3 linked regions of the Homo sapiens genome follow. The protein of the gene in region 3 purifies or fractionates together with the protein of the main gene of each other region. This does not show direct contact. Each region holds a gene or a part of one and is shown on either strand. Other genes may lie near its edges.

Evidence for each region.
Region 1: the proteins of GSTK1 (region 3) and TK2 purify together in Homo sapiens (co-immunoprecipitation; 3 studies listed by BioGRID and IntAct, with this or other methods). This does not show direct contact.
Region 2: the proteins of GSTK1 (region 3) and LIMA1 purify together in Homo sapiens (affinity purification with mass spectrometry; 2 studies listed by BioGRID and IntAct, with this or other methods). This does not show direct contact.

Annotation. Positions count from the first base shown.
Region 1 is NC_000016.10:66,511,746-66,519,758, reverse strand, and holds part of TK2 (thymidine kinase 2, mitochondrial isoform 1 precursor), read left to right. Parts: intron 1-1,881; coding exon 1,882-1,970; intron 1,971-2,543; coding exon 2,544-2,623; intron 2,624-5,947; coding exon 5,948-6,028; intron 6,029-7,692; coding exon 7,693-7,791; 3' UTR 7,792-8,013. UniProt on the Homo sapiens protein: Phosphorylates thymidine, deoxycytidine, and deoxyuridine in the mitochondrial matrix. In non-replicating cells, where cytosolic dNTP synthesis is down-regulated, mtDNA synthesis depends solely on TK2 and DGUOK.
Region 2 is NC_000012.12:50,202,890-50,210,902, forward strand, and holds part of LIMA1 (LIM domain and actin-binding protein 1), read right to left. Parts: intron 3,180-8,013; coding exon 3,095-3,179; intron 1,812-3,094; coding exon 1,663-1,811; intron 1-1,662. UniProt on the Homo sapiens protein: Actin-binding protein involved in actin cytoskeleton regulation and dynamics. Increases the number and size of actin stress fibers and inhibits membrane ruffling. Inhibits actin filament depolymerization.
Region 3 is NC_000007.14:143,258,855-143,266,900, forward strand, and holds the start of GSTK1 (glutathione S-transferase kappa 1), read left to right. Parts: upstream 1-4,586; 5' UTR 4,587-4,659; coding exon 4,660-4,731; intron 4,732-5,231; coding exon 5,232-5,313; intron 5,314-5,693; coding exon 5,694-5,822; intron 5,823-6,137; coding exon 6,138-6,238; coding exon of another isoform or gene 6,239-6,406; coding exon 6,407-6,442; intron 6,443-8,046. UniProt on the Homo sapiens protein: Glutathione S-transferase that catalyzes the conjugation of glutathione to exogenous and endogenous compounds. Significant glutathione conjugating activity is found only with the model substrate, 1-chloro-2,4-dinitrobenzene (CDNB).

The sequences.
Region 1 (8,013 bases), on a different chromosome or scaffold from region 3:
TGAGCGGGACCCACATGGAGCCACTAGTGGAATGGAGGATGTTAAAGGGAGAATTCCTCTGCTAGGCCTGTGAGGGTTGTCTGCCTGCTGATGGGCTTGTGCCCTCCAGCTGTGTCCATTCCTGCTCTCTCTTTCCTGTTCATTTCCTCCCAGGGCACAGGAAACCCACAGGAATACCAGGAATAGATGCCAGATTTCTCCTTCACCCTGGCTCGTTCTTCCTTCCCACTTTCTTGCCTTTTTTTCTTTCTTTTAAAGTTAACATTTAAAATGTGTAGTAGGCCGGGCGCAGTGGCTCATGCCTGTAATCCCAGCACTTTGGGAGGCCGAGGCGGGTGGATCATTTGAGGTCAGGAGTTCGAGACCAGCCTGGCCAACATAGTGAAACCCCGTGTCTACTAAAAATACAAAAATTAGCCAGGCATGGTGGCGCACACCTGTAGTCCCAGCTACTCAGGAGGCTGAGGCAGGAGAATCGCTTGAACCTAGGAGGCGGAGATTGCTGTGAGCTGAGATCACGCCACTGCACTCCAGCCTGGGCGACAGAGTGAAACTCTGTCTTAAAAAAATAAAAAATAGACCATCCTGGCTAACACGGTGAAACCCTGTCTCTACTAAAAATACAAAAAATTAGCCCGGCGTGGTGGCGGGTGCCTGTAGTCCCAGCTACTCGGGAGGCTGAGGCAGGAGAATGGCGTGAACCTGGGGGGCGGAGCTTGCAGTGAGCCAAGATCACACTACTGCACTCCAGCCTGGGCGACAGAGCGACACTACGTCTCAAAAAATAAAAAAAAAAAATAAATAAAAACTAAAATATGTAGTAATGCTCCCCAACTCCCACTGCTGATTTGAGAAGTAATGTGTTGTTAAAATTTGGAAAATACAAAAAGGTATAAAGAAAAAAAGAAAAGTCTCATGTAGTCCTGCAGCTTGAGAAAAGCACTTTTTACATTTTGATATTTTTCTTTCCCACCTTTCCAAGATGCATTGGTGAATACTTTTGGAAATGTGGTTGGGATATACACAGTTTTAGATCCTGTTGCTTTCACTGAACATTAGATTTGAAATTTTTCCATGCCATTAAATATTATTTTACAATATCATCCTTCAGTTACTGCGTGAATTTTCTGTTATATAGATTTACCAAGATTTAGTTTTTTATTGGTTTAAACAGTGCCGCGGTGAGCATCATGATTATTTTCACAAAATAAATTTTTTTGTTTTGTTTGAGTCAGGGGTCTCACTCTGTTGCCCAGGCTGGAGTGCAGTGGCATGATCATGACCCACTACAGCCTTAAACCCCTGGGCTCAAGTGATCCACCTGCCTCAGTTTCCCGAGTAGCTAGGACCATAGGCATGCGCCACCACCCCTAGTTAATTTTTTTGTAGTTTTTGTAGAGATGGGGGTCTTTCCATGTTGCCCAGGCAGATCTTGAACTTCTGGCCTCAAGTGATCCTCCCACCTCACCCTCCCAAAGTGCTGGGATTACAGGCATAAGCCACCACCCTGGTCCACAAAATAAATTTCTAGAAGTGAAATTGGTTTGCTGATTCATTGCCTAACCTGAGCACTGTCTCTGTTCTCAGGGTACAAGCTTTAAAGTCCCTTTCTCTGCTTAGAGTTCCAATCCCAAGTGAATTCTCCCATCACTCCGTGCCATGGCCCTTGCAGCATTGTGCCATAAGCCGCTCCCAGGCAGCAGGAGGTCGGGAATGCTTAGGGTCCTTGTCACTGCATGTCCAGTATTGCACGGATCACACTGTGCCCTGGTACCCTTGGTGACTCCTTTCATTGAGAGCCGTCTCAAGATCCTTTTGGGGGAATTGCATAGCCCAGAAGTTTTCTCTTAGGTGAATAAGCCCTTACAACTCTCATTGCAGTGGGAAGATGCCAGAAGTGGACTATGTAGTTCTGTCGGAATGGTTTGACTGGATCTTGAGGAACATGGACGTGTCTGTTGATTTGATAGGTGAGATGCACCCCTCCCACCTCCCTCTCTTGTCTCTCTCCTGGGTCCCTTGAGGATGTGCTTGGCTGGGCCCCAACCCTTGGGGGCAGTGGGTGAGGCACTTGCCCTTGGCAGTTCCTTCCCCATGGGAGTTCAGCTTTCTCCCTGAGGGCAGACAGAATTCGGGACTTCTGGTCTCTCATGGAGAAGAACCCTGGCCTTTGTTCTTTAAACTTCCCTCCCTGGCTCAGCTACTTTCAGACCCAAATCCACTGTGATCTGATGGGTTTTTCTAGTTTGCAAAGGAACAGGAAGGACAGAGCCTGAACATTCACTGAGACCTGCTGGGTGTGAGGCCTGTTTTGAGCTCTGTCTATGAACAGAATCCCATTCAGCCTCAAAACGACCCCACGGGGCCGCTGACACTGAAAGAGAATGAAAGTCGAGGCGGAGGGTCAGTGGTCAAGCCAAGAGCTGGCCCTCCCTGCTTCCTGCTCGAGCTGTGCAGACCTTCCTCCCGCCTTTGCCTGTGTGCCTGCTTTGCTTCCAAGCCATGAGCAGAGTCCTGAGAGCCACGTATTCTTTTAACCTCAGTTTACCTTCGGACCAATCCTGAGACTTGTTACCAGAGGTTAAAGAAGAGATGCAGGGAAGAGGAGAAGGTCATTCCGCTGGTAAGAGGCCTCTTTGACTTGGTTAAAGACAAACTGGGAAACCACCTCTGTCCAACCCGGCTTCCTCTCCCGGCCCCACCCCCATGAGATCATTGTGCCCTTGTTTGCAGAGAGAGAACAGGAACCAAGTGTATCAGAGGGTGAACTCTGACTTCCTGTTTGGCCAGAGACCCACGTGGATGTCCAGATCTGCTTGGCTTCCTGTGGTCGCTGACTCACAGTTTGGCAACCCTCCTGCTTGGAGGCGTTCCCCTCCCCTCCCCACCTGCCCCTCCCCATCTTGGCAGCACCAGGGCTTGTCTGTTCTGCCTCCTGAAGATTGCCTGGCCTTGTGCTCTCTGTGTCCTCCCTAGAATGCGAGTTCCAGGAGGGCAGGACCCAGCCCTCTTGTTCACTGCTGCATCCCTAGTGCTTAGCACAGTGCCCGGCACGGAGGCGGTGCTCATGCTTAGTGGTGTTTGCCCACTGGAGAGATGCCATGCCCTTCTGAGTTCTGCTCAGGCCACACTGACTCTCATGGGGACTCTGCCAGTATAGGCCCGGGCTGTGCATCTCGCCCTGGCCCTTCCCTCCTTGCATCTCCCTTCAAAATCTGGCCTCCAGGCTGCCGCCCGGCTGATATTTCCAATACTCATCACCACTCGTGCAATTTCCCAGCCCAGAACCTTTCAGTGCCTTGCTGCTGGCTAGAATGCAGTCCCCACTTTGTAATACGGCTTATGACCCGGCCCCAACTGCCTCTCTGGCGTTATCATCCTCCATTCCCTACTTTCTATGCTCTGGCTATAAGGAACTAGTTGTGGCCACACACAAACAACCACATACACAGTGGAGTTATGCAAATGTGCCTTTGCACAGTCGTTTCCTTTGTCTTTAAAGTGTTACTCAGATGTCACCTCCTCCAGGAAGCCACCCCTGACCTTCCTTCCATTGTAACCCCCCCCAAACCCACCCCCTGGCTTTCTGTGATCATGGGCCTTAGGACAGCATACTGACACTATTTGTTTATACCTTTGTTCCCCATCCCTCACTAATGTGAGCTTTTTAAGATTGGGTCTTATTCCCTCCGTGTCCTCTGCATGTGCCTTGGGGCCTGGTGCCTAGTAGTTGCTCAGTTAGTATTGAACTGAATGTCCCATGTGAGAAGCTGCCACTGGAGGGAGACAGAGGCTGGGCAAGCATTCAGTGGGGTGTCAGGGGCTCTGAGCTCAGGATAGGCTGGACTGGGGGCCCTGGGAAGCCTATCCAACTCCTGAAATCCTGCTCAGCCTTGTTTTTCCTTGGTGCCAGCACGATGCATTCCTGCCACGAGGGCCCAGGCGTCACTCTGGGCAGCTCCTTTGAAATCTTGGAGACAAGAATGCTAGGAAGATGGAATGTGGTGGAATGGGGCCAGGCTGGACCATGCTGTGATGCGCACAGCAGCTCTGTGCAGTGACCCAGATGCTCCCCAAGCCTGGGGGCCGTCCAAGCCGTGATCCAAGCCATTGTCTTAAGGGTTTGACCAGGTCCATGGGACACATCTGGCTCCTATTGCCAAGGGAGAGCTGGGCAGGAGATGTAAAGGCTGCTGCAGAGTTGACACGCGAGCCTCTGGGATGGCGAGTGGAATCTGTGTGAGGAGCCATCCCACTCTGTGCCTGGGAGAGCACGAGTATCTGCTCTGCCTGGCATGCAGGCCCCATGGCTCAGGAGGGCCTGTGCCCCTTTTCCCTTGGGCTCCGCTGCATCAGGCTTTCTGCAGTTGGTGGTCTTTATAGTCTGGAGGGTCTATAGGTTACGAGTTGTTGAGGGGGTAGAAGGGCAATGGGTGAGGGTCACAGTCCTCTTGGTGGCAAGACAGAGCGGAGGGTTTAGAGGCTGCCCAGGGCTGGGCCCCTGCCTGAAGGAACTGAGGCCCTGCTGCTGCAAAAGTGGCAGTAAATGGGAGAAGCCAGGTGTGGGTCCTGCCTTTTTTTTTTTTTTTAGTATTTATTGATCATTCTTGGGTGTTTCTCGGAGAGGGGGATTTGGCAGGGTCATAGGACAATAGTGGAGGGAAGGTCAGCAGATAAACATGTGAACAAAGGTCTCTGGTTTTCCTAGGCAGAGGGCCCTGCCGCCTTCCGCAGTGTTTGTGTCCCTGGGTACTTGAGATTAGGGAATGGTGATGACTCTTAATGAGTATGCTACCTTCAAGCATCTGTTTAACAAAGCACATCTTGCATCGCCCTTAATCCATTTAACCCTTAGTGGACACAGCACACGTTTCAGAGAGCACGGGGTTGGGGGTAAGGTTATAGACTAACAGCATCCCAAGGCAGAAGAATTTTTCTTAGTACAGAACAAAATGGAGTCTCCTATGTCTACTTCTTTCTACACAGACACAGTAACAATCTGATCTTTCTTTTCCCCACATTTCCCCCTTTTCTATTAGACAAAACCGCCATCGTCATCATGGCCCGTTCTCAATGAGCTATTGGGTACACCTCCCAGACGGGGTGGTGGCCGGGCAGAGGGGCTCCTCACTTCCCAGACTGAGCGGCCGGGCAGAGGGGTCCTCACATCCTAGACGATGGGCGGCCAGGCAGAGACACTCCTCACTTCCTAGACGGGGTGGCAGCCGGGCAGAGGCTGCAATCTCGGCACTTTGGGAGGCCAAGGCAGGCGGCTGGGAGGTGGAGGTTGTAGCGAGCCGAGATCACGCCACTGCACTCCAGCCTGGGCAACATTGAGCACTGAGTGAACCAGACTCCGTCTGCAATCCCGGCACCTCGGGAGGCCGAGGCTGGCGGATCACTCGCGGTTAGGAGCTGGAGACCAGCCCGGCCAACACAGCGAAACCCCGTCTCCACCAAAAAATACGAAAACCAGTCAGGCATGGCGGTGCGCGCCTGCAATCCCAGGCACTTGGCAGGCTGAGGCAGGAGAATCAGGCAGGGAGGTTGCAGTGAGTCGAGTTGGCGGCAGTACAGTCCAGCCTCGGCTGGGCATCAGAGGGAAACCGTGCAAAGGGGAGAGGGAGAGGGGGAGGGGGAGGGGGTCCTGCCTTTTGCCTTGGCTTTGATTCAGGCGCCAGGGGAAGGGCCAGTGTTTGTGCCCACGAACCCCCAGTGGAGCAGAGCAGGGTGGCTGGTGACACTTGTGCTGTTTTGCTCAGCCTGGCCACCGAGTGTGTGGCTGCGTCTGCCGCTGTCCACTTGAGCCAGGTTTGCTCTTGCAGGGTTCCTTTGTCTGAGTCACTGCCCATGGTCATTGACTACTTTGACCCCCTCTGCTTGACACCCTTGGTAGGTGGGGTCTGCTCTGTCCACTCCCGACAGACTGCTTGTGTTTCCCTGGCAGGAATACCTGGAAGCAATTCACCATCTCCATGAGGAGTGGCTCATCAAAGGCAGCCTTTTCCCCATGGCAGCCCCTGTTCTGGTAAGTAAGACTCCCTTACAGGGTACGAGACTGTTCTAGAAAGAGGAGTGACCCGGGGAATGTCAGCCACCTTGCAGACAGGGGAGGGCACAGTCCTTTAGAGTTTGACAACTTAGAAGAAGGAAGGTGGGAAGGCTGGTGCTCTCTCTCCCAGTGCCTGTTTCTGGGCTGAGTCTCAGAGTGAGTTGGCCAGACCCGAGGGAAGGCAGTCTGTGCCAGTGCCATCACACCTGGCAGTTGTCACTGATCCAGCATCTTCAGCGAAGACTCTAGACCCGGGTCTCAGTTTTCACCATTTGGGATAGTAGTTCCTCTGATGTGACCTTCCTCCTTCCGTGGATGACACAGAGCCTCATTTCACCTTTGTTTGGTGACTCAGGTCATCAGAAGGAATGTCATTGTCTGGTCTGGGCTGTCACACAGTGATGCCCTTAGGAATGCTGAGGTGTGTGGAACTGTCTGCCCTGCCCACTAATGTCTCTGCGTTCCTGTGTTTACTTTTTACAGTAATCCTCCTTTCTCTTGCTGCCATGTGTCATTTCTGACTGATATTGATGTGTCTGTCCCGTCAGCATTTCCTTACTTCCCCATCTCCTTGTTTTCCAGTTTGCTGTTTCCAGATTTCTTTACTCAGACAAATAAGCAGTGGCCCAGATGCTCCCAAGAAATGCGGAGTCTGGGGTCCCTCCGAGTCTTGATTGGAGGGAACCTAAGATGGTTACATATACAACATGGGATTGGCTGTGAGGCAGGGTTGTGCGCAAGCTTTGGTGCATGGCTATAGGAGCATTGTTTGATGGGATGTGAGGCAGGGCTGTGCATGAGCTTTTGTGCGTGGCCATAGGAATATCTGTTTGGGCTCAAACACTTCTGCTTATGGCTCTTGCAGGCAGTGAGGTTGCCGGAAAGTGAGATATTACTGTAGTAATTTTTTGTTTGTTTGTTTTTGAGACAGAGCCTCACTCTGTTGCCCAGACTGGAATGCAGTGACGCAATCTCGGCTCGCTGCAACCTCTGCCTCCTGGGTTCAAATGATTCTCTTGCCTCAGCCTCCTGAATAGCTGGGACTACAGGCGCATGCCACCATGCCTGGATAATTTTTTATATTTTTCGTAGAGATGGGATTTTGCCACGTTGGCCAAGCTGGTCTCAAACTCCTGGCCTCAAGTGATCTGCCTGCCTCGGCCTCCCAAAATTCTGGGATCACAGGCGTGAGCCACTGCACCCGGCCTACTGTAGTAGATTTTTAAATAAGTACAGCTTATTTTTCTCCCTCATTATGGAAAAAAAGGAGGGTAGAAAGTGATGAGGGAAAAAAACAAATCATTCATGAGCTTACAGGGTCTCACTGTGTTGCCCAGGCTGGTCTCAAACTCCTGGGCTCGTGTAATCTTCAGGTCTCAGCCTCCCAAAGTGCTTGGATAATAGACATGAGCCACCATACCTAGCTCTTGTAGTACATTCTTAAGTGAAAACCTCATTGGAAATGTAGATTGCCCTAGAGCTGAAAGCGATTTGGCTCTAACCTTCCTTTTTATCTGCCTGCAACCTTCTGTGCCCTTCCCTGCCCCCTGCTGCCTGCTTCCATCTGTCTGTCTCCAGCTGTGAAAGGAGGATGCTGCTGAGGTCAGTGCAGCCTTGTGACCCATGTGTCTAATTTCCAGGTGATTGAGGCTGACCACCACATGGAGAGGATGTTAGAACTCTTTGAACAAAATCGGGATCGAATATTAACTCCAGAGAATCGGAAGCATTGCCCATAGGAGGCAAAAGGTCTATGGCTCATGTCTGAAAAATGCCTGCTGCTGCCAAGTTAGCTATTGGGAGCAATCTGGAAAAACTTGCTCCCAGGAGGGCTTTGTGTCTGGCCAGCTTGATTTTCCTAATGGTCTCATCTCCTTTGCTAGTGTCTTTGTCATGCGTCTCTGGCCCTCGTGGGTAAATGACAAACGGGACCAATGGGTTTGCCAAGCCCTTTGCTGTTC
Region 2 (8,013 bases), on a different chromosome or scaffold from region 3:
TGTAATTTGAAATCTTAGAACAAATGCTTGAAGGATACAAAAATATGTGTGTGTACATTTGTATCTATGTGTGTGTATACATATATATGTGAATAAATGGCATTTGAAAGGTAACTTCCTTTTTTTTTTTTTTTTTTTGAGATGGAGTCTCACCCTGTCACCCAGGCTGGAGTACAGTGGTGTGATCTCAGCTCACTGTAACCTCCATCTCCTAGGTTCAAGTGATTCTCCTGCCTCAGCCTCCCTAGTAGCTGGGATTACAGGTGTGTGCCACTACACCTGGCTAATTTTTTTTTTGTATTTTTAGTAGAGACGGGATTTCACCATGTTGGCCAGGCTGGTTCTGAACTCCTGACTTCAAATGACCCACCCACCTCAGGCTCCCAAAGTGTTGGGATTACGGTGTGAGCTCCTGCGCCTGGCTATAAGGTAACTTCAATTTAGCAGTTCTGTAGCATCAGCTTACCCGTTAAGCACAGGACAACGTAAAGGGGAAGGACCCTCCATTGTATTTTGAATACCAATCTTTTTTTTTTTTCCTGGAGACGGAGTCTTGCTGTGTCGCCCAGGCTGGAGTGTAGTGGCGCAATCTTGCCTCACTGCAACCTCTGCCTCCTGGGTTCCAGCGATTCTCCTGCCTCAGCCTCCCAAGTAGCTGGGATTACAGGTGCCTGCCACCATGCTGGCTAATTTTTGTATTTTTAGTAGAGATGGGGTTTCACCACGTTAGCCAAGCTGGTCTTGAACTCCTGACCTCAGGCAATCTGCCCACCTCGGCCTCCCAAAGTGCTGGGATTACAGGTGTGAGCCATCACACCCAGCTGAATATCAAAATTTTCATGCTTACTGAGCACGTCACCTTCTTGTGATCTCTCCCTTTTCCTTATCTACTATTCTACTTCTTTAGGAAAACAGTACATCGTAAGGATTAAAGATTAAGTAGAAGATCTACTGTATGACTCCTTCATATGAAATTTCCAAAATAGGCAGATACATAAAGACAGGAAGTAGCTAAGTGGTTGCCAGGGGATGAGAGCAGGGGAAGTTGGGAGTGACTACACAGGTATGAAGTTTCTTTTCAGGGTGATGGAAAGGTTCTGGAATTAAACAGTGGTAATGGTTGTACAACCTTGTGAATATGCTAAGTATCACAAGATTGTATACTTTAAAATGGTGATTTTATATTATGTGAGTTATATCTCAGTAAAAAATCACAAAAAAAACCCTCGTTAATGAACACAGCTGATATTTCTCTCCAGTCTTCTTCTTTCTTCCCTCAAAAGCCAAAATAAGCTCTTCAGTCTTCTTCCTTCTTCCCTCAACAACCAAGATAAAATAAGAGTTATATTAAAACTAATAAAATACTACTTCTTTAACAACACAAAGATTAAGTAGAAGAGCCAGGGAAACTCTCAATGATACTCACTGGTAACATCACAAAAAAAGTGAGTGGGGTGGGAACCAGGACTAAGAAAGCAAAGTCAGGATTAGACCATGGTAAGAACTGCAAATCCAGCGAGGGTAGGGTTCATGTGAAAAGAGAACAGCTAGGGGACCAGGGCTCAGATACAAGGGTCTGGTGACATTTCCTAATTCCAGTACTCAGTGACCATCTGCTGGATGATGGAATGAATGAATGAATGAATGATGCAGAACACATACTGTATAGTTGGTTGAGCTGCTTTGTTTGGACACAGCTGCCTGGTACTTGGCCATTCGATCCTTTATAGAGGTTTCTGAGAGGCGTGGAAGTTCCAGATTTCGTCTACTCTCATTTTTCTCCGAGTCAAATGTAGAAGATGACAACTGACCTGGAAGCATCCAAATAACATGTTTTATTTTATTTCTGAGATGGGGTCTCACTCTATCACCCAGGCTGAAGTGCAGTGGCACGATCATAGCTCACTACAGCCTCGAACTCCTGAGCTCAAGATATCCTCCCGCCTCAGCCTCCCAAAGCGCTGGAATTATAGGTGTAAACCACCGTGACTGGCCAACATGTTTTATTAGAAGATAAAAGTGATTCAAATAATTTCAAAATTCTAAATTTTGGGTTATTTTTATCTAATGGCCAATATCTTCTGTTAAAAGCACGAAGAAGAAAATCAGGAATATAATTGTCATTTATAAAGTAATATTCACTCACTTTCTTAGCATTAAAAGAACCTTACCATAATTGAGGATTGCATATTTTATTTTTTGAGACAGGGTCTCACTCTGTCACCCAGGCTAGAGTATGGGGCAGTGGTACAATCATAGCTCACTGCAGCTTTGAAGTCTTGGGCTCAAATGATCCAACCACCTCAGTTTCCCAAGTAGCAGTGACTTCAAGGATGCACCACCACGCTGGGCTTTTTTTTTTTTTTTCTGTAGAGATAGGTCTATGTTGCCCAGGCTGGTCTCAAACTCCTGGATTTAAGTGGTCCTCCTGTCTCAGCCTCCCTAAGTGCTGAGATTATAGGTCTGAGCCACCATGCCTGGGCTCGTATTTTAAAATTCTGGCTAATTTAACATGAAAAAGAAGAGATCTCAATGCTTTTTAATTTACATTTCTTTGATGACTAGGTAGCTGATGTTTTCCTGTTTTTACTAATTTTTTCTTTTGTGAAGTGCCTGTATATGTCCCCTTTAAAACATAATTCCACTCTCAAAGTGTTATGTTATCACTGGTAATACAGGGTAACCAAACCTGATAGGGGACACAGCCCATCTACTGAAGCCCTCAAACCCCAGATGACTGGAGGCAAAACTGATCGTAGCACTTTACTTATAGCTCCTCAAAGTACCCTTTGCTTACCATAGGTTACCACTAACAAGGGTGGATTAAAAATATGAAAAAAGCAGCCGGGCATGACGGCTCATGCCTGTAATCCCAGCACTTTGGGAGCACGTCAACTTCCGTCTCAAAAAAAAAAAAAAAAAAAAAGCTATTTATCGAGAGCAATGAGATTTGAGAATGGCTTGCATCTAATAGGCAGACTTCCTTTTAATTTGTGCCACTCTTCCTTTAAAAGCATTGGCTTCGAGTCCAAAAGATGTTACTACTAGTGAGTACTTCCTAAAGGACCTCATACACATGGAACTCTCTGCTTACCTGGGCCTATTTCCAGGTCATCTAGAGAATAGCTGTTTTCAGAGATCTTCCTTCCACTTGCACTTCGGCTTTGGGCCCGGAGAATCTGGAAAACGAAACCCAACGATAAGTTTTGCAGAAACAATGGGAAATCTTGACGCAAGGTTCAACTTGCAAACCTTCTTTATAAATAAAATCCAGATTTGATTTTATATTTTATATTCTATAGAATTTTTTTTAAATTACAAATATCAAGCACTACACATTCACAGGTGCCCAGGGAAAAATAAGTAACCCTATATAGGTAATATTCTCTGCTAAAGATGGCTTCCTAACCAGCAAGCTTTGTAACACTTATTGGAGGGGAATCCTCACATACCAGATGACAATGACATGTCCTTCTAAACTGCCAAGTGCTGATGCAGAATCTGCTGTTTCCTTTCTCCGTCTCATGTTATTTCTGCTATTGCTGCCTTAGTTCATGTCTTCATCATCTTTCCCCTGGACTACTGCATTATACCTCTTTAACTGGTTCTTCATTATCTTCCAATCCAGTCTCTATGATGCTACCATTATCCCCAATAATACAAAGTAATTATCCAAAAATATAAATCTATTTTACCCTCCTTTTCAAAATTCTTTCAGCATTCCTACTCATTCCTGAAATTAAACTCGAAGTGCTTAGTAAGTCACAGAAGTCCTGTTCTAGATCTGGTCCCTACCGAGCCAGCCTCCTTTGTCCTTCTGTTGCCTTACAAATGCCTGTTCCTTCAAAGACTCAGTGTAAGCACTATGAAGTCTGAGTACCTTGCCAACATAAATTTAGGTAATCTTTCCTCTGTTCTCAAGGTACCTGGTCAAACTGTTGGGTGACTGTCCCTCTACTGCACTGTAAGCTCACTAAGGGCAGAGACCATGCCTTTTTGTCCATATATTTCCAGGACTTACAGAAAAGTGGATGACACAGATTTTTTTTTTTTGAGACAGAGTCTCACTCCGTCACCCAGGCTGGAGTATAGTGATGTGATCTTGGCTCACTGCAGCCTCCGCCTCCCAGGTTCAAGTGATTCTCCTGCCTCAGCCTCCTGAGTAGCTGGGATTACAGGCGCCTGCCACCATGCTCAGCTAATTTTTATATTTTTAGTAGAGACAGGGTTTCACCATGTTGGCCAGGCTGGTCTCGAACTCCTGACCTCAGGTGATCCGCCCACCTCGGCCTCCCAAAGTGCTGTGATTACAAGCTTGAGCCACTGCGCCTGGCCAACAAAGATTTTTTTTAATGAAGTGTTTTGTGATTCCATTAAATTACTACATTTATCTCTGTCATATCTAAGGTAGATCTTTAATGAAAGTTACAAATTATAATTTTTAAGACTGTAGTGTCAAAGAATATTCCCAGACATAGTACACAGGGAGTATGTCATGTTTATTCAGCTTATAATGAGATCCTTACATCAGATCCTATCATTCAAATCTCAGTTTATTTCCAGACAACTTGAGGTTAAAAAAGATATCTGAAATCCAGTATGACAGGAGATAAGAATAAAACACTTAGCACCCTTTTGAATTTAACATTAGTAAATAGTTACTAAATCTTTAAGTTCAATGGACTAATCAACTTTACTGTAAAGTTTGAGGAAGTGAGACTGGGCATGGTGGCTCACACCTGTAAAACCACCATTTTGGGAGGCCAAGGCGGGCAGATTGCTGGAGCTCAGGAATTTGAGACCAGACTGGGCAACATGGTGAGACCCTGTCTCTACTAAAAATACAAAAAATTAGCCAGGTGTGGTGACATGCACCTGCGGTCCCAGCTACTTGGGAGGCTGAGGTGGGAGGATTGCTTGAACCAGGGGGGCAGAGGTTGCAGGGAGCAGAGATCGCTCCACTGCACTCCAGCCTGAGAAACAGAGTGAGACCCTGTCTCAAAAAAAAAAAAAAAGAAAAGAAAGTGAACTATCACTTTTACATATTTTTTATACCCCCTCCTTGGAGACAGAAAACATACCACATCAGAAATCAGAGCCAAGGATTGGTCTGTTTATACCACACCAGTAAGAATAGTTTCTTTCAAATTCAATATATATTTAATATATCTCCCAAGGCTAGGCACAGTGGCTCAAGCTTATAATCCTAGCACTTTGGGAGGCTGAGACAGGTGGATCACTTGAGCCCAGGAGTTTGAGACCAGCTTGGGCAGCATGGCAAAACCTTGTCTCTACAAAAAAGATACAAAAGTTAGACTGGGCACGGTGGCTCACGCCTGTAATCCCAGCACTTTGGGAGGCCGAGGCAGAAGGATCACGAGGTCAGGAGTTCGAGACCAGCCTGACCAACATGGTGAAACCCCGTCTCTACTAAAAATGCAAAAAAATTAGCCAGGCGTGGTGGCCCGCACCTGTAATCCCAGCTACTCAGGAGGCTGAAGCAGGAGAATCGCTTGAACCCAGGAGGCGGAGGTTGCAGTGAGCAGAGATCAGGCCACTGCACTCCAGCCTGGGTGACAAAGCAAGACTCCGTCTCAAAAAAAACCAAAAGTTAGCTGGGCATTATGGCATGCGCCTGTAGTCCCAGGTACTCAGAAGGCTGCAGTAGGAAAATTGCTTGAGCCTGGGAGGTGTATGTTGCAGTGAGCCAAGATCATGCCACTGCACTCCAGCCTGGGCAACAGAGTGTGACCCTGTCTCAAAAGAAATAATAAAAATAAAAATATATTATATACATATTACATATGTGTGTGTGTGTATATATAATTTGTCTCCTTGCTGGGTTTGGTGGTTCATGCCTGTAATCCCAACACTTTGGGAGGCTGAGCCAGGAGGATCCTTTGAGCCTAGGAGTTCAAGACTAGCCTGGGCAACATAGGAAGACTCCATCTCTACAAAAAAGAATACAGTGAGCCGTGACCGCACTACTGCATTCCAGCCTGGGTGATGAGTAAGACCCTGCTCAAAAAGTAATAATAATAATTTATATCCAGTCAGCTTTGCAATTTATATTGTTGATTTAAGTCTATTTTTTCTTTCTTTCTTTTTTTTTTTTTTTTACAGTAGAGACAGGGTCTCACCACGTTGCCCAGGCTGGTCTCAAACTCTTGGGCTCAAGGAGCCTCGGCCTCCCAAGGTGCTGGGATTACAGGTGTGGGCCACTGCATCCGGCCTGATTGGGTCTATTTTTAATAAAAACTAAAACAAGCTGGAACAACACTATCCGTGCTACATCACACACAGGTCAGGCATACTTTCATGAATTATTATACATCCATATGACTCACACAGCTCAACATACTCTTGCTCTAGGAGCAGCCGCTATCTGAAAATGAAGTGGTTGGGTGCGGTGGCTCACACCTGTAATCCCAGCACTTTGGGAGGCCAAGGTGGGTGGATCTCTTGAGGTCAAGAGTTCGAGGCCAGCCTGGCCAACATTGTGAAACCCTGTCTCTACTAAATATACAAAAATTAGCTGGGGTGGCGGTGCGCACCTGTAATCTCAGCTACTCAGGAGGCTGAGGTTGAGAATCACTTGAACTTCAGAGATGGAGGTTGCAGTGAGCAGAAATTGTGCCACTGCTCTCCAGGCTAGGTGACAGAGCGAGACTCCATCTCAAAAAAAAAAAAAAAAAAAAGAAAAAAGATAATGAAGATCTTGGTCAAAAGGAAAAGATATGTCTGGCAGGATACCCTCAATCCACATTTTTAATTTTTATTTATTTATTTATTTTGAGACAGAGTCTTACTCTGTCACCCAGGCTGGAATACAGTGGTGTGATCTCAGCTCACTGCAACCCCCACCTCCTAAGCTCACACAATTCTCCTGTCTCAGCCTCCAGAGTAGCTGGGATTACAGGCGTCTGCTACCACACCTAATTATTTGAGTTTTTGGTAGAGTTGGGGTTTCACCATGTTGGTCAAGCTGGTCTGAAACTCCTGACCTCAAATGATCTGCCCTCCTTGGCCTCCCAAAGTGCTGGGATGACAGGCGTAAGCCACCGCGCCTGGCCCACCTTTTTATTTTGTTTTCAACATACTTCTTATTTGCTGATCATTAAAATAAAGAAAATTCCACATATTTATTCCAAATGCTGCTGCACTGGAAGATAACCACTACAAAAATTAGAATTTTCAAAACTCAAAATGGGAGAAAGCCTACTGATAAACTTCTTTTGAAAAACCAAAAGGGGCCGGGTGCAGTGGCTCACACCTGTAATCCTAGCACTTTGGGAGGCCGAGGCAGGTGGATCACTTGAGGTCAGGAGTTTGAGACCAGCCTCGCCCACATGGCGAAACCCCATCTCTACTAAAAATACAAAAATTAGCTGAGCATGGTGGCACGTGCCTGTAATCCTAGCTACTGGGGAGGCTGAGGCAGGAGAATCGCTTGAACCAGGGAGGTGGAGGTTGCAGTGGGCCAAGATTACTGCACTCCAGCCTGGGCAACAGAGCAAGACCCCATTTCCAAAAAAAAAAAAAAAAAGAAAAAAAGAAAAGAACAACCAAAAGGAAACGGGTTCTGTGTTCTTAATACAGATATTTGCTTTCTGTCAAAGTTCAAGCACAATTCCAAGAATATGTGTTACATGTTACAACCTGCAGAGAGCTGTTTTCTGTCTAGTTGGAGCTACACATCCTTCTCTGTCTTGTGTGAAGTCCCTGCACTGCTGTTATTGGGAGCATAATCATTTAGAACCAGAGCATACACCTTGCCAGGGCAGAGGCTTTCTTTGGTTTTAAACGCATAAAATTTCCCATCTTTGTTAGCTTTTAATTTAAACTGCTGGGTTAATTAAATAAGGCCCCCTTACCTTTTTTTTGAAGCCTTTTGCTCCATGGGGGTATCAAAACTCTGCATTAATTTATTTCAAGTACTAAAAAAGTACATGAACAAAGCCATTTGGTCTCAGAGAAAAATAGGAAGAGAACTGTCTCTGAAAAATCCCTCAT
Region 3 (8,046 bases):
ACTATTTCTTGTTTCAATAGCTCTAATCAGTATCTAGAGTAAAATTAAGTAAGCAGGAGGCTATTGACCTGAGACAGTCTCCATGCTTTGAATTCCTATGAAACAAAATGCAACCTAACTTAGTATGTAAACAAACTGAAACTTAACTTAGGAGTTTCATTTTTATAACAGATAACCAGGTCTTTGCCAATCACAAGCAGCCAAGCTTCAGCTAAGTGCAAGCAGCCAACGGACTGGCTCATGTCTAAATCAAGCAAAACACTTAGCTGCAACAAATCAAACTATTTATGTACTTTACCTTCCTGTTCTGCTTATAAATACTCATTGCTTACAGTTGCAGAGCTCTCGGAACCTCTTCTGGTTCTGAGTACTGCCTGATTCAAGAATCATTCTTTACTCAAATAAACTCCATTAAATTTAAATTGTCTGAGGTTTTTCTTTTAACACTAAATACCCCTCTCAGCAATAGGAAGATGATAGCCCATAGAAGTGAATATATTTTTCTTTTTGTTGTCTCTACTCCATTTTATCCACAACAGGGCCCAACCTAAAAATAATAATAATAACAACAGTAATAGTATGTGGAGATAGACTGTAAGGACTCAGATCAATGTTTTATTATTCTGTGATTCTTAAAGTAAATATACATGAGTCCATACTGATATAAATAACTGACTGAATAAATAAATAAATAGAAAGAAGGGACAACTCTCCTGTCAAAAGAATTCCAATTAATAAATGAAAAAAACTAAGGAAATAGAGAATCACCATTAGAACACCACAGTAACAACTGCTGCAGGCAAGATCCACTGATGAATAATAAAACTGATGGGTGACAGTTTAGGGAGCAACTGGATATTTGCATAGCCTCAAAGTATCTCCCCCAAATATTTATTAGTTACCATGGTAGTGTTAACGTATATCCACAACTTCTTTAATATTCTTCCCTCCAGTGGATGGACTTAATCTACTCAACCCTCACTCCCAGGATGGGCTGCACTTACTGACTCCCTTCCAAAAACTAGGGTTTGGATAGGGAAAAATGGTGACTTTACAGTGCAGAAATTTTCCAGTTGCTCCGCCTTAACCAGGTGACCAAGGTAAACACCACCAGTGATGAGTCATGTTGATATCCCTGTACCTCATGACATGATTCAAGAAGGGCACCTTACCTCTGTGGTAATCTTCCCAAAAGTCCACAACCTTAGTCTTACTCTGAGGAAATATCAGACAAACCCAAATGAAGGGACATGCCACAAAATAGCTGATCAATACTCTTCACAAGTGTCAAAGTCATGAAACACTAGAAAAGGCCAAGAAACTCTCATAGATATGGGAAGAATAAAGAGACATGACAACAAAATTCTGTATGTATGCTGGACTGGATCCTGGAACAGAAAAAGAACACTAATGAAAAAACTGGTGAAATCTGAGCAAAACCTGCAGTTCAGTTAATAGTAACGTACCAGGCTGGGCACAGTGGCTCATGCCAGCACTTTGGGAGGCTGAGGCAGGGGGATCACGAGATCAGGAGTTGGAAACCAGCCTGTCCAATATGGTGAAACCCCGTCTCTACTAAAAAATACAAAAAATTAGCTGAGCGTGGTGGCACACGCCTGTAGTCCCAGCTACTTGGGAGACTGAGGCAGAAGAATCGCTTGAACCTGGGAGCCGGAGGTCGCAGTGAGCCAAGATTGCGCCACTGCACTCCGGCCTGGGTAACAGAGTGAGACTCCAGCTCAAAAAAAAAAAAAAAAGTAATGTACCAATGTTAATGTATTGGTTTTTATCATTATCATACTTATGTAAGATTTTCACATTAGGTAAAGCTGGATGAGGGGTATTCAGAAACCTTGTACTATCTTTACAAGTCTTCTATAAATCTAAAACATTTCCAAATATAAAAAGCTTTTTAAAATAAGTGATTGATCTACCTTTGAAATGAAACCTTAAATTACCACGCTGAATTAGCTCTTGGACACTTTAAAATTATGATTACTGGAGAAAAACAAAAATGTAGCTGGGCATGGTGGCTCATGCCTGTAATCCCAGCAGTTTGGGAGGCCGAGGTGGGAGGATCACTTGAGCCCAGGAATTCAAGACCAGACTGGGAAGCATGGTGAAACCCCACCTCGACAAAAAACAAAAATTAGCTGGGTGTGGTGACATACACCTGTAGTCCCTGCTACTCAGGAGGCCAAGGTGGGAGAATTGCTTGAGCTTGGGGGGCAGAGGTTGCAGTGAGCCAAAATTGAACCACTGCACTTCAGTCTGAGCGAGAGTGAGATCATGTCTCAAAAAAAACAAGGTGGGCTGTGGTGGCTCACATTTGTAATCCCAGCACTTTGGAAGGCCAAAATGGGTGGATCACCTGAGGTCAGGAGTTCAAGACCAGGCTGGCCAACATAGTGAAAGCCCATCTCTACCAAAAACACACAAAAAATTAGCTGGGCGTGGTGGTGGGCACCTGTAATCCCAGCTACTTGGGAGGCTGAGGCAGAGAGAATTGCTTGAACCCAGGAGGCAGAGGTTGCAGTGAGCTGCAATTGTGCTACTGCACTCCAGCCTGGGCAACAGAACAAGACTCCATCTCAAAAAAAAAAAAAGTTTAGTTTCAGTGGTTGTTGAACAATTAGTTTACTCTGCAAGTAGGTAATGATAACATCATTTTTCATTCCATTTTGCATGCTCTTCTCCATGTAGGGGTTTACCTCGTATCTCTGTATTCTGATAGCCTGGAGTTGTTTTCCTTATTGATACAAATGAAAAGTGGAATCTTTATATGTTTTCCAATTTATTAAATTAGTAATGTTAAAAATAATTTTAACAAAGTTAAATGGAATTATTTTAAAATTCTGTTTCTTTGCAGTAAATGTAATCCCAATATAAGACAATATGACTCACATATTTGTGAAAACGAATAGGGCCAATCGTTTCCATTATCACCAAAATTATCTATAGTGAGGCCTCTCCATCTTCTACCAGTCCCTCTTTTTTTTCACTCACTCAAAATATATGTATCGATGGTCAAATGTGTCCCAGACATTGTGCAAATCTCTGACAAAGGTAACACAAGAAAATGTGTACTCTGAGAACTTCTTATTCTGCCCCAGTTTAGGAGATTCATGCAACTGCCAAGCAACAATAATAAGAGCTAGCAGTTATTGGAGTACCTCATTCCTCACAACTCGTCATAAGGCAGGTGTTATCATTAGATATTCCCCATGTGTATGCAGGATGAGGAAATAGGTTCAGAGAGGTCAAGTGGCTCACCCAAGGGGCACAGCTAAGTGAAAGGCACTGCAGGCATCTCAAACTACCCCCTTCCCACAAGACTCCACTGCAGAGCAGGACAGTCACCCTGACACCAGCCCAATGGGTTCATCTTGCCCATTACCCAGATGGGGCTAATTTATCAAGACAAGGGAATTGCAATAGAGAAAGAGTTTAATACACATAGAGCCAGCTAAACAGGAGACCAGAGTTTTATTATTACTCAAATTAGCCTCCCAAAATTCGGAGGCAGAGGCTAGGGGACTTTGTGGGTTTTTTTGTTTTTGTTTTTGTTTTTCTTTTGAGAGGGAGTCTTGCTATGTCACCCAGGCTGGAGTGCAGTGGCATGATCTCGGCTCACTGCAACCTCTGCCTCCCGGATTCAAGCAATTCTCCTGACTCAGCCCCCCGAGTAACTGGGATTACAGGCACATGCCACCATGCCCGGCTAATTTTTGCATTTTTAGTAGAGACAGGGTTTCACCATGTGGGCCAGAGTGGTCTTGAACTCCTGACCTCAAGTGATCCACCCACCTCAGCCTCCCAAAGTGCTGGGATTACAGGCGTGAGCCACCATGCCCGCCGGCTAGAGTTTTTTAATGATAGTTTGATGGGCAAGGGGCTAGAGAATGGGTGCTGCTAATTGGTTGGGGATGCAATCACAGGGGTGTGGAAAACCGTCCTCAGTGCACCGAGTTGCATTTGGATGCGGGCCACAGAGGAGTCACTGGTCCAGGTGGAGTCATCCTGTCATTAGAAATGGAAAAGTCTGAGAAGGTATCTTCAAAGGCCAGTCTTAGGTTCTACAAAAGTGGTTATTTACAGGAATAATTGGGGAAGTTGCAGAGCTTGTGACCTCTGGAACAATGTCTGGTAATTGTTAATGCCTACATCTTAGCAGAATTCAGGCCCCTCTCATAATCCTAAACTTGTGGACTTTTATTAGTTTTATAAAACTGGTTTAGTTTGGGGAAGGGCTATTATCATTTAAACTATAAACTAAATTTCTCCCTATATTAGCTCGTCCCATGCTCAGGAATGACCAAGGGCAGTTTGGAGGTTAAAGGCACGATGGAGTTGGTGAGTTCAGATCTGTTTCACCTTCGTAATTTTCTCACTGTTAAAATTTTTGCAAAGGCGATTGCAGCGCCCCTTGTCCACACCTGCGCGCTCCCCAAGGGGTCCCTACCCACCCCGCCCCTGGCTGGGGGCCGTAGGCTGGCCCTGCCCCGCTGCGCCGGAGGTGGACCTCTACCAGGGCAGTTTCTCTCTGAGGCTGCGCGCTAAGGCGGTGGGCGGTCCCAGGCAGGCCCAGAAGCTGGGCAGCCTCTGCCGGGTTCCGGGAAAAGGAGCTCCTGCTGCCACTGCTCTTCCGGAGCCTGCAGCATGGGGCCCCTGCCGCGCACCGTGGAGCTCTTCTATGACGTGCTGTCCCCCTACTCCTGGCTGGGCTTCGAGGTGACGCTGGGAGGGGTCGCCTCGGCAGTGTCTGGGGAGTGAGGGCGGAGGGAAGAGTGAGCGCAGGGCTCCGGGACAGAGGTCTCGTGTAACTCCTGGCGCCGCCCAAGGGGTTAAGGCAAGCAGGGAGAGCTCCGGGGCTGAAGGTCACTTTGTGCTTTTAAACGGAATAGAGTCGCTGGCTCCAACCCGAGCCTTTATATCCCGACTGCAGTTTCCCACGGTGGTGGAAAGAGGGGCGGCTCCAAACATTCAGGGAGAAATGCAGAACACGGCCACCTCTTAGCCCAACGATGGCAGTTTTGGGGAAAACTGGCCACAGGAGCGAAGATCCTGGAATAGATTTCTAGTAGTGAGGAGAGTTTTGCCAATTTCAAACCAAACAATGTAGGGTGTCCGCATAACCCCTGCTCTGCACTTAGCGCCTCCCTTCCCTTTCCCTCGGCTCTTTCACTTTTCCATCTTGCACACTGGCAATCGTTCTTGACCTCTGCCCGCAGATCCTGTGCCGGTATCAGAATATCTGGAACATCAACCTGCAGTTGCGGCCCAGCCTCATAACAGGGATCATGAAAGACAGTGGTAGGAAGGGAGGGTCGGGGCAGGGGTGATCTCAGTGGCCCAAGAGAGCCGACCCCAGCGGGTCCTTATATTGGCACTGGCAGCCAGAAAGCTGCCCTCTGCCCCGTCTCTACTAAAAATACAAAATTAGCCGGGCGTGGTAGTGCATGCCTGTATACCACAGCTACTCGGGAGGCTGAGGCGGGAGAATCGCTTGAACCCAGGAGGCGGAGGTTGCGGTGAGCTGAGATCGCACCATTGCACTCCAGCCTGGGCAACAAGAGCGAAACAACAAGAGAAAAAAAAGGAAGCTGCCCTCTGCCCAAAACCCACGTCGAGGTCCCCAAACCTGGGACCCTTAGGTCTTTTCTCACTTAGCGTGCCCAACCTTCTCCTGGCAGGAAACAAGCCTCCAGGTCTGCTTCCCCGCAAAGGACTATACATGGCAAATGACTTAAAGCTCCTGAGACACCATCTCCAGATTCCCATCCACTTCCCCAAGGATTTCTTGTCTGTGATGCTTGAAAAAGGTGAAGAGAGTGGGATGTAGACAGGGTATCCAGTGAAAAACACAGAAGTCGGAGATTGAGGGATTGATAGGATGGAGGGGCTGCGGGAGACTAAAGCAAGTGAAGCCTGCCTTGGGAAACCTCAGGATCAGCCTTGAGCGAGCTGAAGGTTGCCGGGCATGAAAGGGAAGAAGAGCAGGCAAATAGGTCATGGGAACCTTGGGTGAGAGGCTGAGGGCGGAGGAGCTCTGGGGGATGTCAGAAGCAAGGAAGAGCTAGTCCTCCACCAGGAAAGCAGCAAGAGGAGCCCTGCCTCTGGGTGCCTCTGCCCCACAGGAAGTTTGTCTGCCATGCGTTTCCTCACCGCCGTGAACTTGGAGCATCCAGAGATGCTGGAGAAAGCGTCCCGGGAGCTGTGGATGCGCGTCTGGTCAAGGGTGAGTGTGGGGCTCTGGGAATCCTCTGGGAGGACCTTGGATGACTTTCTGACCTTCCCCAGGCACGTTTTCAGGGTCATGATCCTGCCCCCGCCCGGGGGATCTACTGTCCTCCCAGTCACACCCCTCTCCCCGCACCGCCTTCCTGCTGTCTTCTCTTCTTCCCAGAATGAAGACATCACCGAGCCGCAGAGCATCCTGGCGGTGAGTGTCCTGGCTCCACCCCAACTGCACTCATAGAGAATCTGAGAACAGTTGGCGTTTGGGGGTAAAGAAGACAATAGGTCTCTTATTGCATGGAAAAGGTTATAATTACTGGGGAAGAAAGGATGTCTGTGATTCAGGGCACAAACTACTGAAAAGTTGGAACTAAGGATCCTCAAAAGGATATCTCAAGGTTGAAAGGGGAAGTGCAAAAGGGACAATATATGGGAAGAATTTATTTGCTGAAAGATGTCAGTGAGAGAAAGATGCTCAGTGTTGGAACCCCTGGATGGGGAGGGATATAGTATTCACAAGTCTCCACAAACTCCAACACAAACCTCACCAACACATCCAGAGTGGAAGGCAGGAGACTTGTTCCAAGAGGCTTTAAAAAGACGAAAAGAGATAACTAATGCCAGGGTTATATAGGAGCCTGAGTGAGAACAAATGGAAATAGCTCAAAACATTGACCAGTGAGCCATGGATGGGGGTATAAAAGTAAGTTTGTCTTCAGGATTAAATTAGGAAATTCAAAACAGTATTATTCCTCTGGTTTACAAAAAAAAATAGTTGAGACCTATTCAAATTTAATATATAAAGTGGCAAATCACACAAAAGTTAAACGTATAAGGAATGGCAAATATATCTTCTACAGTCTATACTCCTGCAAAGTACATGTGTAATTTTTAGCTTGCTTTTTTACTTCATATTTAATCATTTTCCATGCTTTTTTTTTTTTTTTTTTTTTTTTTGAGACACGGTCTGGCTCTGTCGCCCAGGCTGGAGTGCAGTGGTGTGACCTCGACCCACTGTACCCTTTGCCTCCTGGACTCAAGCAATCTTCCCACCTCAGTCTCCTGAGTAGCTGGGACTACAGGCACACACTACCATGTCTGGCTAACTTTTTTATTTTTTGTAGAGAAGGGGTTTCACTGTGTTGCCCAGGCTGGTCTCAAACTCCTGTGCTCAAGAGATCTGTCTGCCTCCACCTCCCAAAGTGCTGTGTTTACAGGAATGAGCCACTGTGCCCAGCCTCCATGGAATTCTTAACTCTGAAAGTATAGTTCTTTGTTTCTATAGAGGTTCCACTGAGTGGACTTATTTTTGTTTTGCTTAACCATTTTTCTGTGGTTAAACATTTTGTGTAGGACATAATTCTCTAATTTAACCAAGTCAAAGATAGTGTCTCATTAGGACAGGCTACATGAATTCCTGGGTCCCACTTCTGATCTAGGAAGTCAAGTTGCAGTGGTTGTCAATCTTGGCTGTGAATTAAAATCACCTGGAGCACCTTGGCGCTAACCCTTTCCCCTGGAATTGTGATGTAATTGTTCTTGTTCTTTTTTTTCTTTCTTTCTTTTTTTTTTTTTTTTTTTTTTTTTTGAGACAGTGTCTTGCTTTGTCACCCAGGCTGGGGTGCAGTGGCATGATCATGGCTCACTGCAGACTCAACCTCTTGGGCTCAAGTGATCTCGCATCTCAGCCTTACGAGTAGCTGGGACTTCAAGCATGTGCCACCATGCCTAATTTTTTAAAAATTTTTTGTAGAGATGGGGGTTTCACTTTGCTGCCCAGGCTGGTCTCGAACTCCTGGGCTGAAGCAA